Linked DNA regions of Homo sapiens. The protein of the gene in region 1 interacts with the protein of each later gene in a biochemical or structural test. Each region holds a gene or a part of one and is shown in the gene's direction. Other genes may lie near its edges.

What was found.
Region 2: of the proteins of TRIM25 (region 1) and MAP3K13, one has a biochemical effect on the other in vitro, tested with the Homo sapiens proteins (one study listed by BioGRID).

What each region holds. Positions count from the first base shown.
Region 1 is NC_000017.11:56,896,841-56,900,659, reverse strand, and holds part of TRIM25 (E3 ubiquitin/ISG15 ligase TRIM25), read left to right. Parts: intron 1-1,479; coding exon 1,480-1,545; intron 1,546-3,819.
Region 2 is NC_000003.12:185,446,348-185,450,166, forward strand, and holds part of MAP3K13 (mitogen-activated protein kinase kinase kinase 13), read left to right. Parts: intron 1-1,441; coding exon 1,442-1,600; intron 1,601-3,552; coding exon 3,553-3,711; intron 3,712-3,819. UniProt on the Homo sapiens protein: Activates the JUN N-terminal pathway through activation of the MAP kinase kinase MAP2K7. Acts synergistically with PRDX3 to regulate the activation of NF-kappa-B in the cytosol.

The sequences.
Region 1 (3,819 bases):
CTTTGTGTTTGCTCTTCCCCACTCTCCAGAAGGCTTGAACTCCACCGTCTTCACTAATTAACTCCTCTCACCCTTCAAAGATCAGCAAAACATTACATTTATAGCCAGCCTCCCCTGCCACTGCTCCCACTCCTCAGACTGGGCCCAGGGTCCTTGTCATCCTCTTGGGACTCTTGCATGGGTAGTATCGCATTCTTCCTTGGGATCCCCGTATATCTCCCTCATTAGGTTGTGATCTCTGTGAGGTCAGGGGCTGCGGCTTATTTATTTATTTATTCAGGATCTTGCTCTGTCGCCCAGGCCGGAATGCAATGGCGTGATTATAGTTCACTGTAACCTCAAACTCCTGGGATTAAGTGATCCCTCTGCCTCAGCCTCCCGACTAGCTAGGACTATAGATACACACCATCATGCCCGGCTAATTAAAAAAAAATTTTTTTTTTTTTGAGACGGAGTCTCGCTCTGTCACCCAGGCTGGAGTGCAATGGCCCAATCTCTGCTCACTGCAACCTCTGCCACCCAGGTTCAAGCATTTCTCCTGCCTCAGCCTCCTGAGTAGCTGGGATTACAGGCATGTGCCACCACACCTGGCTAATTTTTGTATTTTTAATAGAGACATGGTTTCACTACTTTGGTCAGGCTAGTCTTGAACTCTCGACCTCAAGTAATCTGCCTGCCTCAGCCTCCCAAAATGCTGGGATTACAGGCGTGAGCCACCGGGCCCAGCCTAAAAAATTTTTTTTGTAGAGCCAGGGTCTCGCTAAGTTGTCCAGACTGATCTTGAGCTCCTGGCTTCAAGTGATGCTCCTGCCTTGGCCTCCCAAATCATTGGGATTACAGGCTTGAGCCACTGTGCCTGGCCTGTCTGATTTTTCTTCAACGCTATTTCCCTAGTGCCTAGCACAGAGCCTGGCCCATAGTAAATCTCTGTTGTGTAGTCCAAGATTGGGCTTGAATCTCAGCTTGGCCTGCCGAGTGTCCTTGCAGAAGGGCTTCTGAAATCGGTGGCGGTGCAGCCCCATTGTGGAAGTGCTGCGTGGGGGCAAAGCTATAGGTGGCTGGTATGTGGGAGGAGGGGAGAGAAAGAATAGTGGGAAAGGAACAAGTGTTGACCCAGCCTCCGCTACATGACCTTGATCTCATTCAGGAGTCACATCAACCATGAGCAAGGTGAAGTCATCCCCATTGTGTGCTCGAAGAAACCAAAGCTCAGAGAAGTCTCAGAGGCCACAGAGCTGGGTGCTGGTGGAAAAAAGACTTGGCCCTTGCTACATTTTAAAAAGTCAGAGAAAAAAGGGAATACACCAAACTGGTTCTTAGATCACCTTGTTTGTAGCTCTTGTAAGCGATGGGATGGGGAAGGTCGGAGGAAATGGCTGTCTGTGTAAACCCTCTGCCTGCCCACCGACCCATGGCAAAGCTGGCTGCTAGGGTCAGTGAGAGGAGCCGCACACACTGAGCCCTTCTTCTCTGACACAGGTGACCCTGGAGAGCATGACCCAGCGTCCACACACAAATCCACACGCCCTGTGAAGAAGGTCTCCAGTAAGTAGCCCCACCCCTGTCTCCATGGCAACAGCATGGCTGTGGCCTCCCCAGGCTCTGGCCAAGTCACTTCCGGCCCATCCCGAGTCACTGTGGGGCCTGGACCTCAGTGGGAAAGAAGTTGGTGGCAGTCCCCACTGCGGGGGGCTGTAGGGCTGTGGCAGAAGCTCCGCTGTCCATCAGCATTGCACGTTTGGGCTGCCTGGAACAGCAAGATGCCTGAGGCTGGCTTGTTTTGAGAAATATTTACTATACCCAAGTCCTTGGGCAGAGCCTTGGGCAAGGAGACTGATGGCGGTCCAGGAAGGGTGGAGGCTAAACCTCCTTGGCATCTCAGCAGTGTTAAGTCTCTGGGTTGTAATGGGCTTCTGCTATTACCATGTTTCTCAACTGTTTTTTTTTTTTTGGTTTCTCACTGTTACCCTCCTCCTGCTCATCCCCAGAACCATTTGAGAAAATTTTTTTCCTAATTACAACCCATGAAATTTTAATACCACCCATCTACTGCATAACTGTTTATGTTTGTGCTTTTACACATAAAAAGAGTAATCTTTTTTACTCCCCCTCCCCCAAGGATCCATTTTTGCCCTCCTAGGGGTACTATCCCCCTCATTGGGCAGGCACCTGCCATTGACATGGGGGTTGAGGAGAAGAGTGGTCCTGTTCTGCAAATGTGGACAATAGTGATATCGAGGCCACAGGATGATTCTGAGTGATGAGGGGACACTGATTGTGAGAGCTCTTTATGAGCCATATACCACTGAGATGTCCATATACCACTGAGATGTCCATATACCACTGAGATGTCCATATACCGCTGACATGTCCATATACCGCTGAGATGTTCATATACTGCTGACATGTCCATATACCGCTGAGATGTCCATATACTGCTGACATGTCCATATACCGCTGACATGTTCATATATCGCTGAGATGTCCATATACCGCTGACATGCCCATATACCGCTGACATGTTCATATACCACTGACATGTCCATATACCACTGAAATGTTAGCTGTCATTGCTTCCCTGAAAAGTTGGTGTGAACCCAGGAGGGCTGGCTGCACACTGCTGGTGTTGGGGGGATGAGAGAGCCAGGGCTTGCTCTTTGTTGTTGTTGCTTGTGCTTAGTGTTCAGGTCACCTGTAGCAGGCAGAGTGTGGTATCGGTCCCCGAATGGAACAGAGTCAGGGCTGGGATGCCTGGTGCAGATGGAGGAGGGAGCCCTTAGCTGGGCCGGAAAACCTCGAAGGGTACTTTGTGTGAAAAGAGGAGTGAAAGAGGAAGTGGAAAGGTACTGTTGACCTGTGTCCTTCCCCAGTCACCTTCCTCTGAAAGCTCCTCCCTTAGTATGAATGAGGTAGGGATGCCGGCCAGCAGGCAGGTGTGTTCCCCAGTGAGGTGAGGTCCTCATGTCACAGCAGAATGACACCCTGGAGAATAAAGTTCGGGAATGAATCAAGGCTCCTCTAGGCTGAAATGGGGAAATAGGGGAGGGGGTATGGAGTAGTCCCAGTGCAGAGAGATGTCTAAGGGTAGGTGATGAGGGAGGTGCCTGTGCCCTAGATTGATGTCACAGCCTGGGCCTCCCAAGATGCTGGTCCACAGGGAGTGGGTGGGAAAGTGGCAGAAGGGGAGGAAATGGGAGAGTGAGCGACTGTGAGTGATGTGACTTCGAAGTAGGAGAAGCGGTAGCAAGGGGGCTTTGTGGTGTGATGGGGGTCTGGGGGAGGGAGAGGGTAATAGGAGAGAGCAGGGCTTATCTGTAATGTCAGGTGTCCTGCAGGTGGGCAGGGATATGATTTCAAAAACGCCCCTTTTTGTTCCAGTGTTGTGGAAGGTGGCAAAGAAGGAAGCTGGGATCTTCTAGCCCACTTGAGTGGACTTTGGACTCACCTGGAGGGCTTGTACATCACAGATTGCTGGGTCTCACCCCCAGCCTTTATGATTCAGTGGCTCTGGCTTGGGGCCCAAGAATTTGCATTTACTATTTTTTAAGAGACAGAGTCTCGCTCTTTTGCCTAGGCTGGAGTGCAGTGGTGCGAACAGAACTCATTGCAGCCTCGAACTCCTGGGCTCAAGTGATCCTCCTACCTTAGCCTCTTGAGGAGTTAGGACTGTAGGCATGTGCCACTAAGCCAGGCTAATTAAAACAATTTTTTTTTTTTTGTAGAGACAGGATATTGATATGTTGTCCAGGCTGATCTTGAACTCCTGGCCTCAAGCAATCCTCCTACCTCAGCCTCCCAAATTGCTGGGATTACAGGAGT
Region 2 (3,819 bases), on another chromosome or scaffold:
CGGGTTCACGCCATTCTCCTGCCTCAGCCTCCCGAGTGGCTGGGACTACAAGCGCCCGCCACCACGCTCGTAAGCCTCTCATCATTAAACATAGGTCCCTAGATCATTAAAGCCTCTGAAACCCTAAGTCTTTAATTTTCTAAAGTTCTGAACAGGTTATTGCAAGTGAATTCGATCTAATGTGAAGCTGTCAATTTGGTACCGGATTGTATTCATCTTCAAGGCTGGCAGAGAGCACTTTGCCTCAGGCCACATTTTCAGATAACTACTATGACAAGTAAAACAGGACTGGTGTGGAATTTACTTAAGCTTGGATTTATTTCTGCTTTTCCTTATCAGCACTAGTGAAATCCCAGCATATATATTAGCCTTTTAATGTAATGAATCCCAAACATCATGGTCTCATTCATGATATTAGTTGGCTATCATTTAAACAGTGTTTTAAAAGAAGTACTCTTTTTAGTGGCCTGGCTAAAGCCAGCAAGGATGGAAACCAATATTTATTGATAACGGTGCCTTATGTATCTTACCTCATTTAATTCAAATGAAAATTCAGTGAGATTGTTATTACAGGTCTATCATCCCTTATCCAAAACTCTTGAAGCAAGATATTTTCAGAAAGGTAGTGCACTACCTTAGACATCCAGCGAGGTCTGGAGCAGCATCCTAAAATCAACCACATTAACAAATCTGCAGCAAAACCTATTGTTCACACAAAATGGGATGAAGAAAGTGAGTTTGCCTTATACATGTGAAAAAAATATAAACTGGTTGAGAACTTTTTGCATTTTCAATTTGTGAATAAGACCTGAAGAGTCTCCATCCTACACATGAGAAAACTGGCTTAGAAGAGTTAAGTAAGGCCGGGTGCAGTGGCTCATGCCTGTAATCGCAGCACTTTGGGAGGCTGAGATGGGTCGATCACCTGAGGTCAGGAGTTCGAGACCAGCCTGGCCAACATGGAGAAACCCCATCTCTACTAAAAATACAAAAATTAGCTGGGCATGGTGGCAGGTGCCTGTAATTGCAGCTACTTGGGAGGCTGGGGCAAGGAGAAAATCCCTTGAACCCGGGAGGCAGAGGTTGCAGTCAGCTGAGATCGTGCCATTGCACTCCAGCCTGGGCGGCAAGAGTGAAACTCTGTCTCAAAAAAAAAAAAAAAAAAAAAAAAAAAAGAGTTAAATAACTTGGCAAAGGTCACACAGCAAGTAGAAGAGGCAGAATAAGACTAGGTGTTAAAAGCCCATTACGCTAAACTGCCTCACAAGTATGAATGATGCTATTTCTAGTGTATAGCCAATGCCCCAGTGACATTGGAAACTGCAAGCTGAATGCTACAAGATAGGAAGTAGCAGATAAAGTCTTCAGTTTCAGCCATTTAGAATCATGGTTTTCGTTAGTACTAATGATCCAGATGTTTTCTTTTTATTTCTTTTTAAAGTGTTTTAGTGACCCACACAGATGCGGTAAAAATTTCAGATTTTGGTACATCTAAGGAACTCAGTGACAAAAGTACCAAGATGTCATTTGCTGGCACGGTCGCATGGATGGCGCCAGAGGTGATACGGAATGAACCTGTCTCTGAAAAAGTTGATATATGGTGAGTGGCGCCACCAGTTGTGCCAACTAAAAAGCCTTTTCCCACTTTCGCCCTATTAGCACTGTCTTCCTTCAGCACTTACTTTTCCAGAATATTCTTCAGTGTTGCTCACTTTTGGTTGATTTCAGCCTCATATTTTCTGAGGTACTTCCCAGTATGGTGATATATGGGGAGAAGGATTAGGGGGAATTAGGGTGGCTATCTACTCAGTAAGTCACCAGTTTGGGGGACCTCAGAGAATATGCTGAACTTTCTAGGAAACTGAAAGTTTACTTCAAATGATCATTTAGTATAGAAGTCTTTCTGAAATGTGTTACATAGTTCTCACCTTCTTGAGTAAAGTACAAGAGCTTACCTAATCTCAATGACTCAGGTCATCATTACACATATCAATAATGTACCTTGCTATGATACAATTATGTTCTCTAGACATGTTTGAGATGTAGGAGGTTGTTTTGCCCTTTTATTGAACAGCCTCTATAGGCTATGCTTTAAAAAAAAATCTCTGTAACCTTTCCTCTGAGGTTATAAGTCTTTTCTATTAACAGTATTTTTCCCTGTAATAGCTTTTCTTTTACCCTTAAAATTGGCAACTAGTAACTTCTAGGCTTAAAACCAAAATAATAGCACATGTCAAAATTGCATGTAATACCAGAGCAAATAGGAAAAAGTAGAAATGTGGGGTCATTCGTAATTTAGATAATCATTACTAAAGTACCCTCCTTAGGGATTACTAATTGATGTTCCCACCAGAAATATGTAAGAGTGTTTTCTCAGTCTCACCAACAAAATGTGCTAAACTCTTGGATTTTTGCCAATCATATAGGTAAAAAAACGGTATCTTGGGTGCATTCCTCTTAGGATAAGTGAGCCTGTACTTTTGTTCATATGTGTTACAGCCATCGTATTTGCTTATTTGTGAATGACTCATAATCTTTGCTCAGCTTTCTGATTTTTACTCATAATTTATCAGAGTATTTTATGTATTAAGGAGATTCACATTTTGTGTAAATTGTAGATACTTCACATTTTGTTATTTTGCTTATGGTATTTTTTTCAGTGTCAGATTTTGAAAATACAGTTTAATTTCTCAATTTCTCCTTTTATGGCTTTTAGATTTCATGGTTTAAAAAGTCTTTAAAAGCCAGGCGCAGTGGCTCACACCTGTAATTCCAGCACTTTGGGAGGCCAAGGCGGGTGGATCACTTGAGGTCAGGAGTTCGAGACCAGCCTGGCCAACATGGTGAAATCCCATCTCCACTAAAAATACAAAAAATTAGCCAGGCGTGGTGGCACGCACTTGTAATCCCAGCTACTTGGGAGGCTCAGGCAGCAGAATCGCTTGAACCCAGGAGGTGGAGGTTGCAGTGAGCCAAGATCGCACCACTGCATTCCAGCCTAGGTGACAGAGCAAGATGCTGTCTAAAAAAAAAAAAAAAAAAAAAAAGTTTTTAACACTCCTAGATAATTTTTTAACTCCTTATTTTTTAGAAGATTTTTATGGTTTCATTTTTCTATTTAAATCTTTGATTCATGTGAAATTTATCTTGATTTATGGTGAGTTATAGATTTAATTTTTTTCCTAGCTGTTCCAACAACATTTATTAACTAATCAATTTTTCCCCACTGGTTTTTGATGTCACTTCTATCATACATTCAATTCCTAAATGTATTTGGTTTATTTCTGGATTTCTTGTCCAGTCCATTATGCTGGTGATCTGTTCACACACGGGAGTTAATTATTCAGGTTTTAATTTCTGGTAGTGTTGATTACCCCACATAGATTTTTTTTTTTTTTTCAGAGTTGTCCCAGATGTTTCTGTTTTTCTTATAGCAGTATTAGAATTTTAAAACTGGGTATATGTACTAATTTGATTTCAATTAATAGAGAACTAAAATACAAATCAGTCTTTCTGAAACATCTTCTGTCCATGTTCCCGGCGCTACTGTAGGTCTTTTGGAGTGGTGCTTTGGGAGCTGCTGACAGGAGAGATCCCTTACAAAGATGTAGATTCTTCAGCCATTATCTGGGGTGTTGGAAGCAACAGCCTCCACCTTCCAGTTCCTTCCACTTGCCCTGATGGATTCAAAATCCTTATGAAACAGACGTGGTAAGAATATTGTCTCTAAAACAATAGGGAGGTCTCTAATGTGTATTTGGAGTAAATATCCTGGTGGTGGAAAGAATAGGAGCTTTGGAGTAGGAGAATCTTGGGTTC